Homo sapiens: one gene and its partners. The protein of the gene in region 3 interacts with the protein of the main gene of each other region in a pairwise test. Each region holds a gene or a part of one and is shown on either strand. Other genes may lie near its edges.

The links.
Region 1: the proteins of MNS1 (region 3) and ZMYND12 interact in binary tests that used the Homo sapiens proteins (3 or more experiments, as listed by UniProt).
Region 2: the proteins of MNS1 (region 3) and TTC23 interact in binary tests that used the Homo sapiens proteins (3 or more experiments, as listed by UniProt).

The regions. Positions count from the first base shown.
Region 1 is NC_000001.11:42,445,925-42,449,580, forward strand, and holds part of ZMYND12 (zinc finger MYND domain-containing protein 12), read right to left. Parts: intron 2,715-3,656; coding exon 2,543-2,714; intron 1-2,542. UniProt on the Homo sapiens protein: Required for sperm flagellum function and male fertility.
Region 2 is NC_000015.10:99,218,582-99,222,237, forward strand, and holds part of TTC23 (tetratricopeptide repeat protein 23), read right to left. Parts: intron 3,284-3,656; coding exon 3,160-3,283; intron 468-3,159; coding exon 317-467; intron 133-316; coding exon 7-132; intron 1-6. UniProt on the Homo sapiens protein: Participates positively in the ciliary Hedgehog (Hh) signaling.
Region 3 is NC_000015.10:56,437,493-56,441,148, forward strand, and holds part of MNS1 (meiosis-specific nuclear structural protein 1), read right to left. Parts: intron 1-3,656. UniProt on the Homo sapiens protein: Microtubule inner protein (MIP) part of the dynein-decorated doublet microtubules (DMTs) in cilia axoneme, which is required for motile cilia beating.

The DNA of each region.
Region 1 (3,656 bases), on a different chromosome or scaffold from region 3:
TGTCAGAGGTAAACAGAACCTGGGCTGTATTTTCTTGTCCAGTGCTTTTCTCATTACTTTGGAGGAAAGACAGTCTGGAATGGGGTGTCAGACCTGGGCAGGGTGAGCAGGGCATTCCTGCAGGCAAACAGCCTGTTATGGGGAGTTGGAACCCACACAAGTGAGGAGGGATCCATGCAGCAGAGGCAGCCTGGAATGGGGAGTCAGGGCCCATGGAGCGGGAAGAGGTATCTATAAGGTGGAAAGGACGGAGTTAGAGAGCGGGGATTGATTCATACAGGGGAACTCATTAATATGTAAATAAACCAATGAAAGTGAAAGCTGTCAGCAAAGGGAGTTGCAATTAAGGAATGGAAGTAAATCAGATTGAACCCTATGGTGCTGTATTAGATCTGGATCAAACAGTATAGACTAGTGGTCATAGAGATATTGATGTAGATATATAGATACAGGCCAGACACGGTGGCTCATACCTGTAATCCCAGCACTTTGGGAAGCTGAAGCAGGTGGATCACTTGAGGACAGGAGTTCAAGATCACAAACATGGTGAAACCCCGTCTCTACTACAAATACAAAAATGAGCCAGGCGTGGTGGCACACACCTGTTGTCCCAGCTACTCGGGAGGCTGAGGCAGGAGAATTGCTTGAACCAGGGAGGTGGAGGCTGCAGTGAGCTCAGATTGCGCCACTGCACTCTAGCCTGGGTGACAGAGTGAGACTCGGTCTCAAAAAAAAAAAAAAGATATATAGATATAGAAATAAATACAGATGTAATGTGTGTATACGTACACCCATTATTATATTTACACTTACTCCCTAACTCCACTGAGAAGGCCTGGGAGCAGTAATACCCCAAAAGCATGAGTACATCTAGTGCACAGCTTTTGGCTTCTGATTTTCACTTTCCACTGAAAGAGATCAGGGCTCTTTAGAGGTATGTTCCAGAAAGCAGTCAAGTGAGCAAAGAACAAATGGGGTTGTATCTGGGAGATGCAGAAGCCAGCTTGAGTGGGGTTTGTCACTGGTCAAATCAGGGACAGTTTGAGGATCAAATTAACGATAGTAATGGATTTAAGCCCATTGAATAAAGATAAAATACTGATACAAATAACTAAATGAATACATTGAAAATTCGATGAGGAATGGGATATTTATATAGTTTCAAAGGACGTATCCATGAAATGAAAATTAAAGTTATTAATTACAGAAGGGTGAAAGAGTAACATTACAGGGAGGAAGACTGGCAGACGCCATCCTAATAAAGTAATTAAAATGAACATCATCAGTAATGAAAAAAATGAAAACATGCCAGTTTATAGGATGGGATGAGAACACAGCATCACCTCTGTACTGTTTTTGCCAAAAATCCATAACGTGAGTCCCATCATTAGGAAATATCAGACAAACTCAAATTGAGAAATGTTTTATACAATTGGCCTGTAACCTGTAAAAGTGTCAAGATCATAAAAGTCAAGAAAAGGTTGAGAAACTATTCCAGAGTTTTGTTGCCAACACATGGCAACAAAATGAAAAGTGTGACCCTGAACTGTATCCTTTTGCTATAAAGATGTTATTGGGAAAATTCGAGAAACTTGAATGGGGTCTTCTTAGATGACAGGGTCCCCTTGTGTGGTTCCCACAAAGACATTCTCCTTCATAACCACAATACAATATATCTCATTTACTAAGGGGACACTGAAGTATTCTAAGGATAGGGAATCAGGTGAACAACTTACTCTCAGAGAACTCAGGGGATAAAAGTTCTTTATATTGTACTTAATTTTAACAGTTTTACTTTTAAAAAAGTTTTACTTTTAAAAAAGTATTTTTTTAATGGTGGCTATTAAAACATATGAAGCATTTTTTTAAATGGTGGCCACCATGTAGGGTATCTGCTAAGTCTGCTCTATACTCTCAGAATTGCCTCTCCCATCTATAGGGGTGGGTTCCTGTATTTCTGAACTATGTGGCTCTGATCCCAGGGAATAAAGGTGGATTCCACACTCAAGCCATGTCAACAAAATTCTGTCTTCTACGAATTTGTATTTGGAAATCAGAAGCTAATTAGTTTCTACTGCCTACTTCAAACCTAGAAAACACGTAAACTGAAAAACTCCATCTGACATTTTGGGGTAGCTGTCTTCTACAGTGAGCATAGGGTAGACAAATCTGGTCTGCAGAGAGGGAAAATAGCAAAGCAGATAGATACCCAGAGAGAAGTAGATACAGGAGACAAGGCCCAAGAGAGAACGAAAGGCACTCCAATTCTAGTCCCTCATGAAGCCTCAGCTCCTGTAGGATACTACAGCACCCGCACAAAGTTCCTCCTTTTTGTGCAGGCCAGCTTGAGTGGATTTCTGCCAGTTGTAGACAAAAGTCTGTGACATCTCCTTCCCTACCTTGTGCTAAACTTTACAGCAACCCTGCTCCTTCTACAATAGGTCTCTTGGTGCCACTGTCAAGGGTGACTCTTTGATCATTGGTGTGACCCAAACATAACACCACTTAAGGGATCCAAGGATCTCAAGTCGGTTTCACTCACCAAGGCTGGCCTCGGCCAACAGCAGGTAAGCAGGCACAAGCTCTACGGAGCTCAGGCCATACAGCTTCACACGGAAGCGAAGGGACTGCAAAGCTGCTGGTACAGCATCTTCGTGTTTCCCTTCAAAGAGGTATTTCTGGGCTATGGTGTAGCAGAATTCAATCAAATACTTCTGTGGAAGAGAGAAACAGACTATCTGAGACAGTCTAAAGTTAAAGGCAAAGGTGGATGTAGATGGCCCTGGGGATAAGGCCAACACCTAATGACCCAGTTAAAGGCACATAGTGAGCCTGCCTGTATTAGAGTGGACGTGAAGCCCCACATAAGTGATATAAGAAAGCAAACTCTGGACTATGAGTTCCTTAAGGCCCAGGAACATGTGTATTTTCATCTTAGTTCAGCGCTTGGCATAGATGAATGCTCAATATAGAGTTATCAGATGAATAAATGAGTATTGTTTTTACAGTTCTAATAAAACTTTACTTTAGCAAAGCTAGCATGTCTCAGGACAATCTGAAACTTTCTGCCTTCCTAGTTGAGTTAATTTTGAGAGAAACATCTCATTTTCCCTTCCAGAATTATCCTGTTTAGCTAATATCACAAAAAACTTTAACTCTGCATTGTTCTAAGGCCACTATCAAAGTGTCATAACACTAAAATGGATGGATCTTATGTTTAGAGATTTATGGCTTATAATAAGGGGCTAATTTTTTAGAGTGATTGAGATGCTCAATACTCAATAATACTCAACACTATACATAATAATAGTGGCAGGTTTTGGTAACCTCCTTTATTTATTCAGTAGTATATCCATACATCATTCTTAACCCTCCTATTATGTGGCCAGACTCTTGGCATCTGTGGATGTTATGGGCTGAACTGTGTCCCCTGCCAAAATTCATGTGTTGAAGCCCTATCCTGCAGTCTGTCACATGACTATAATTGGAGCTAGGGCCTGTAGAGTGGTGATTAAGTTAGAATGAGGCCATTAGGGTGGGCCCTAACCTAATCTGACTTGTGTCTTTATAAAAAGAGGAAATTGGACACACAAAGAGATACCAGGCATGCTTGCACACAAAGGACCATGTGAAGACACTGTAGGAAGGCAGCCATC
Region 2 (3,656 bases), about 43 Mb from region 3:
ACTTACTGTGCAAATGATAATCTGATCCGTGCTTCAATTTCTATCCATTCTTCCTTTATAATTCTTCCACATTGTAGCAGCTCCTTTGAAAGTCTCTCTGCTTTTGTCAAATTCTCTGCAGCTTCCTTAAATCTGAATTGTGTTCAGGAAATTTTCCACTTGGTTCTAGATTCTACACCCCATGTCCTGAACTTCCTTGGCTCCCATACTTCCAATCACACTTCCTAAGTCATCCATCAGCATCAGCTTTTTACTTGGCGTGTAAGTGTTACGTGAATAGTATTTCTATTTGTAAAAGTTAGAGGCAAAAGGATACTTTTGAAGGGAGAGTAAAGCTCTGCCCATGGTATGGAAAAGCTCAATGGAAAACTTGAAAACATCTGTATTCTCACTATAGGGAGGCACAATGGAGTTGGCGAGGATTTGTCTGGCTTTTTCTGCATGTTGTTTTGCTTGCAGTGACAGTCCTGTGGACAAAGAAAAAGAGGTCTCAGTTTCTCTATCATCTCAACTGGACAGGAATACAGTTCCTTATGGTCTGGGAATCTAACAAGGTCTCCTTCACATATTGTCAAATGACACATGGAGACGTATCTGGGCAGCATGAAACACTGCCATGACTGTAACAACCAAAGAAGTGTTTTATACCAAGTACCCAAGATAAATTTTCCCCCAAATGGCCTTTTTAGAAATAAACAAAATGAGCTGGAATTGAACAGCTTTGAAACCTCACCAATAGCAGAAGCAAAATATGTTACATATAATTATAAGAAACAAACTGAATACAAGAACTATAGCATTCTGAGCAGGAAATAAAATATTCATGAATTTTAATCCTGGCTGTGTAACTGCAATCTTAATGAAATACTAAAAATTCTGAATCTTCAGCTCACCCACCTATAATCATAATGTCAGAGAGTTATTTTTTTAACATAATACATATCTGATATCTACAAAAACTTACAAACACAATTCCAGTGAGGTAACAGATTAATGTGTGACAATTTCATCTTCCTATGTGGTAAGAGACTAATATGAAACAAAGTGGAGCAAAAAAAAATCACTACTAAGAAAGAATTCCCCAGTGTGTTCCAGTGTTCCTCCACGGGCTTGTTAATCTGTGGGAAGGGAGGACTGAGATCGCTAGCACGGCTTCAGGGCTTTGCACGTCCCTGTATTCCCATCCTCCTCCCCTACACCGACAACCACTTCCACTCACATACACACAGCCCCCATCTTATGTTCTTAGTTACACAAAATTGTATCTTAGATCTCTAAAAAAATCTGTCAAAATATGAAGTTAATTCTGTTCCTATGTCTATAAAACAGGAAGAATATATTTTCTAATGGAGAAAATCAAGGGTATGTGTTTCATGTGGGAATTCTTACACAAGATTGTCTTATTACATATTTTTAAAAAGCACAGACATGTATTAGTGCCACCTGTGCTTGTGATGTTACACAAAGCATGTTGGACTGTATTTTCAACTGTGTCGAGTCCCTGAAGGAACCTGAACTCAATTTACTGGAGGCAGCATAGGGTGAAGTTCAAGAACATTGGCTCTGAAGTCAGACTGCCCAGGATGGATCCCCTGCTCCACCACTTATTATAAAACGTTGGCCTCAGCTTTCTCAGCTGTAAACAGGGATATTAAAAATACCCACCTTTGAGGACTGTGGTGAGGACTGAATAAGGTTATGCATGGAAAACAACATGCCTGGCACCAAATGAGACTTTAATAAATGGTAGATACTACTTTTACTTTAAATTGAGAAAGAAGGACTGTCACGCAGAGAGGCAGCAGGCTGTATAAGAAAAGCATCGTCTGAAACCCCAGATGGCAGGACAAACTGGCATTGAAAACCTAGGTCTGAGTCTCAGATCAGCTACTTATTAACAGTGTGGTATGGGGAAAGCTGTTCTAACTCAGACTCATTGTTTTCCCTGAATCTACAAAATGGGGTGGGAGGGCAGAGTTTAAATTAGATAATCTCCAAGGTCCCTAAGAGCCTTTGATCTAATAGGTAGGACCAGTCTATAATCAGATTTGGCCAAATTTATTGGGTGGCAATAATGAATACGCTTGGTATAGAATATGCTTGGCATTTGGTGTTTTCCACTTCTATTATTTTCTTTATTCACTGGGCCAACCCTGGAAAGTTAGCATCACCATTACCATCATCATCACTTTTCAGCTGAAGAAGCTGAGCACAGAGATGCTCTTGTCCATCTTGTCTTAGGCTGCACAGTCAGTAAGTAGAAGCCATCATCATATCCTGGGTGTCTATTGTTTTTGCCTCCCCTGCACGCATTCTCCCCTCTGTTTCCCTTTTGGGATGCCTGGCTCCTGCACATCCAATCCATGAGATGTGGCGAAGGCCTGCTTCTCCTTCAGGATCCAATGAAGCCAAAAGAAAGGTTTAGCCAATCAGACTATTCCTTGCCTTTGGTATACAACCCAAGTTGTTCCAATTAGAACCCTTCCCAAATCCCGGGATTTTGGTGGAGGGACATTCTTTTCCTCCTGGGAATGCTTATAAGGGAAGTCTAAAGTTGCAGGCAGTCTTGTTGCCACCATGTGGGCAAAACCTGGCAAAGAATGGAGCAAATACCAAGAAAAACAGAGCCAAGCAGTGGGAGAGAGAAAAATTGAATCCTGGTCACATTGTTTGAACACTGGATATGGCTAAGTCTAAAAATTTTTTCCCTTGAATTTTTAAGTTGTATGAGCCAAAAACTTTTGTTTATGCCAATTTGGGTTAGTCTTTTTAAATTTTTTGGTTATTTACAGTCAAGAGATTCTCCAATAAAAGTGTGAATGGATCCCATTCTGGGCCCCTATTCCATACCTTGGGTTTTTTCCTACAAAGTCTTCTGGCCCAACAGATTAATTTTCTCCTAAGAACCTTACTTTTGAAATCATAAAAACAAAAACAAAAACAAAAAAACCAGAAAAGTTAAAATATTTTTTCCATTTTTCCCCTTTGAATGTTTACAGGTTATATACCTTATCAACTCTTTCTAAAAAGAAATGGCTTCTTGGTATTTAGAAAGGAGAATATTAAAAAACCTGATCCTTCTAATTAAGTGTGAATCAAATTTTGGGGAGAACAGCAGAAATCGACCAACTGATCCCCCTCAGTCTAAGGCGAGCTTACCTTTCAGCTGGAGGTAGCCTTGAGCCAGATTAACATGTGCCTCTGCTAGTTTCCAATGTGAGTCTCCATAGCAAATTCTTGTCAGTGCTACGCAACGCACAAGCTCATGGACGGCCTGTTTGTACTGTTAGGAAGAGAAAACAGGCTTACCAGTTATACAACTTAAGAGTCACAAAACACAAAATCAATGCGCTTTTATATCCCTTTGATAAATACTGAGTGACTACTATGTGCAAAACATTGTTCTAAGCACTTGAGATGTATCAGAGAACAAAACAGACAAAGATCTATTTGGGGTGGTAGCATGTACATCTGGTAAGATGAAACAGACAATAAACATAAGAAGTACAATTTATAGTACATTTAAGGGTGAAAAAAAGAAATAGAATTTAAAAAATAGAAAAAGTAGAGCAGACATCTAGTCATTCTCTAGGTTTCCCAGCTGCCCACCAATGAACAGCTACTACATATGCAGGCACAACAGGGGCAAATGGTAG
Region 3 (3,656 bases):
ACCCACAGCCAATATCATACTGAATGGGCAAAAACTGGAAGCATTCCCTTTGAAAACTGGCACAAGACAGGGATGCCCTCTCTCACCACTCCTATTCAACATAGTGTTGGAAGTTCTGGCCAGGGCAGTCAGGCAGGAGAAAGAAAGAAAGGGTATTCAATTAGGAAAAGAGGAAGTCAAATTGTCCTTGTTTGCAGATGACATGATTGTATATTTAGAAAACCCCATTGTCTCAGCCCCAAATCTCCTTAAGCTGATAAGCAACTTCAGCAAAGTCTCAGGATACAAAATCAATGTACAAAAATCACAAGCATTCTTATACACCAATAACAGACAGACAGAGAGCCAAATCATGAGTGAACTCGATTCACAATTGCTTCAAAGAGAATAAAATACCTAGGAATCCAACTTACAAGGGATGTGAAGGACCTCTTCAAGGAGAACTGCAAACCACTGCTCAACGAAATAAAAGACGACACAAACAAATGGAAGAACATTCCATGCTCATGGATAGGAAGAATCAATATCGTGAAAATGGCCATACTGCCCAAGGTAATTTACAGATTCAATGCCATCCACATCAAGCTACCAATGACTTTCTTCACAGAATTGGAAAAAACTACTTTAAAATTCATATGGAACCAAAAAAGGGGCCACATTGCCAAGACAATCCTAAGCCAAAAGAACAAAGCTGGAGGCATCATGCTACCTGAATTCAAACTATACTACAAGGCTACAGTAACCAAAACAGCATGGTACTGCTACCAAAACAGAGATATAGACCAATGGAACAGAACAGAGCCCTCAGAAATAGTACCACACATCTACAACCATCTGCTCTTTTTTTTTGTTACAAAAAAGACAGGTTTGTTACAAACCTGACAAAAACAAGCAATAGGGAAAGGAGTCCCTGTTTAATAAATGGTGCTGGAAAAACTGGCTAGCCATAGGTAGAAAGCTGAAACTGGATCCCTTCCTTACACCTTATACAAAAATTAATTCAGGATGGATTAAAGACTTACATGTTAGACCTAAAACCATAAAAACCCTAGAAGAAAACCTAGGCAATACCATTCAGGACATAGGCATGGGCAAGGACTTCATGTCTAAAACACCAAAAGCAATGGCAACAAAAGCCAAAATTGACAAATGGGATCTAATTAAACTAAAGAGCTTCCGCACAGCAAAAGAAACTACCATCAGAGTGAACAGCCAACCTACAGAATGGGAGAAAATTTTTGCAATCTACCCATCTGACCAAGGGGTAATATCCAGAATCTAAAAAGAACTCAAATTTACAAGAAAAAATCAAACAACCCCATCAAAAAGTGGGCGAAGGATATGAATAGACACTTCTCAAAAGAAGACATTTATGCAGCCAACAGACAAGAACAGGAAAGGTGATGTCTACTCTCATCACTCTTCTTCAACATAGCACTAGCCAGTGGTGCTGGAAATTTTAGCCAGCATGTAAGGCAAGGAAAGGAAGTAAAAAGTATACAGATCAGAAAGGAAGAAACAGCCTGTAGCTCTGGGCAGAAGACATGCCTGACTATGTAGGGAAAAAAAATCCTACAGCTAACAAGTGAATTCAGCAAGGTTGTGAGATACAAGATAAACACAAAAATATCAATTCACTAGCAACGAGTACACGGACACCAAAATAAAAGCTAACATTCCATTTACGATTGCTCAAAAAATGAAACACTTAGATGTAACAAAACACGTACAGGATTTGTATGCTGAAACTAGAGAATCCTGATGAAAAAATTCAAAGATCTAAATAAAGGGAGAGCCAAATTGTGTTCATGAACTTAATATAGTGAATTTATCAATTCTCCCCAAACTGATATTCAAATTTAATTCAATACCTATCAAAATCCCAGCAAAAAATATTTATAGAGACAAGATTCTTCAAAAATTCATATGGAAAGGCAAAGGAACTAGAATAGCTAAAAAAAAAATTTTAAGACTTGCCATATAGCTGCAGTATTCAAAACTGTGTAGTATTGGTGGAGGGATGGATACATAGACCAACAGAACAAAATAGAGACCACAGGAATAGACCCATACAAACATGCCAACTGTGTTTTAAGAAAGGTGCAAAAGCAATTCAATGTTGGAGAAACAGCCATTTCAACAAATGGTGTGGAACAACTGAACTAAATCCAATGGCAAAAACTGTATTTAAGTCTCATCGTTTGTACCAAAAATTAACTCAAAACAGATCACAGATTGAAATGTAAAATGGAAAAGCATAAAAAAAAAAAACCCAAAAAAACAAAACACACACACACACACAAACCTTTAGGAAAAAAAAAAGGAGAAATTCTTCAATAACTAGGCGAAGAGTTTCTAGAGTTGACACAGAAAGCATGATCCATAAAAAGAAAAACTGATAAACTGAACTTCATAGAAATGGAGAACATTTGCTCTAAGAAAAATCGTGCTCTAAGATCATGTTAAAAGGATGAGAAGATAAAGCTACAGACTAGAAGAAACTATTTGCTAACCACCCACCTGACAAAGGACTAGTATCTAGAATATATGAAGAACTCTCAAAACCCAACAATAAATGAACAAACAACCCAATTAGAGAATCAGCAAAAGACATGAAGAACTATTTCATCAAAGAGGATCTTACACCAAAGAGGACAGCAAATAAGCACATGAAAAGATGTTCAGCATCATTAGTCATCAGGAAAATGCAAAATAAAACTACAAGGTATCACTACATGGATATTTAAAAGTGGCTAAAATAAAAAATTGTTGAGCTTCTGAGGACAGAGGAGAAAAAAATTAAAAAATAAACTGTGTTAACACCAAATGCTGGTGAGAATGCAGACAGACTGCGTAACTCATATATTTCTGATGGGAATGTTAAATGCTACAGCTGTTCTGGAAATCACTTTGGCAGTCTGTTACACAGCTAACATGCAGTTACCACAAAACCCAGCTAATACAATCTTGAGCATTTATTGCAGAGAAATGAAAATTGATGTTTATACAAAAACCTTTACCTGAATGTTTACATCAGATTTACTCATCAGAGCTAAATATTGGAAGCATTCCAAATGCCCTTTAATGGGCAAATGGTCAAATAAAATGGTATATACATGCCAATGGAATGTTACTCAGCAAAAAAAGGGAACAAATGATCAATACAAGCAACTTGGATGAATTTCCAGGAAATTATGCTGAATAAAAAAAAGCCAACTTGAAAAAGTTACATATTGTTTGATATCATTTATATAACATTCCTGAGGCACATACTTTTAAATTTATAATTAAAGGTTTATCCATGTTTTAGCATGATCAGTCTGTCATTCTTTTAATAGCTGAATAACATTTTATTACATGGATATACTATATTTTGTTTATCCATTAGACATTTGGGTTATTTCTACTTTTGGGTTATTTCTACTTTTAGACTATTGTGAATAATGCTGCATAAACATTTGTGTATGGGTTTGGGTAGACACAGGCTCATTAATTTTTAACCATTCTTTTTTCTAATATATGCATTTAAAGATATAAACTTTCCTCTAAGCACTGCATTAACTGCACGTCACATATTTTGGAATGCTGTTTTTTGAATCATTTAGTTTGAAATATTTTTCTAATTTCCAATATTATTTATTCCCCTTTTCTCATTG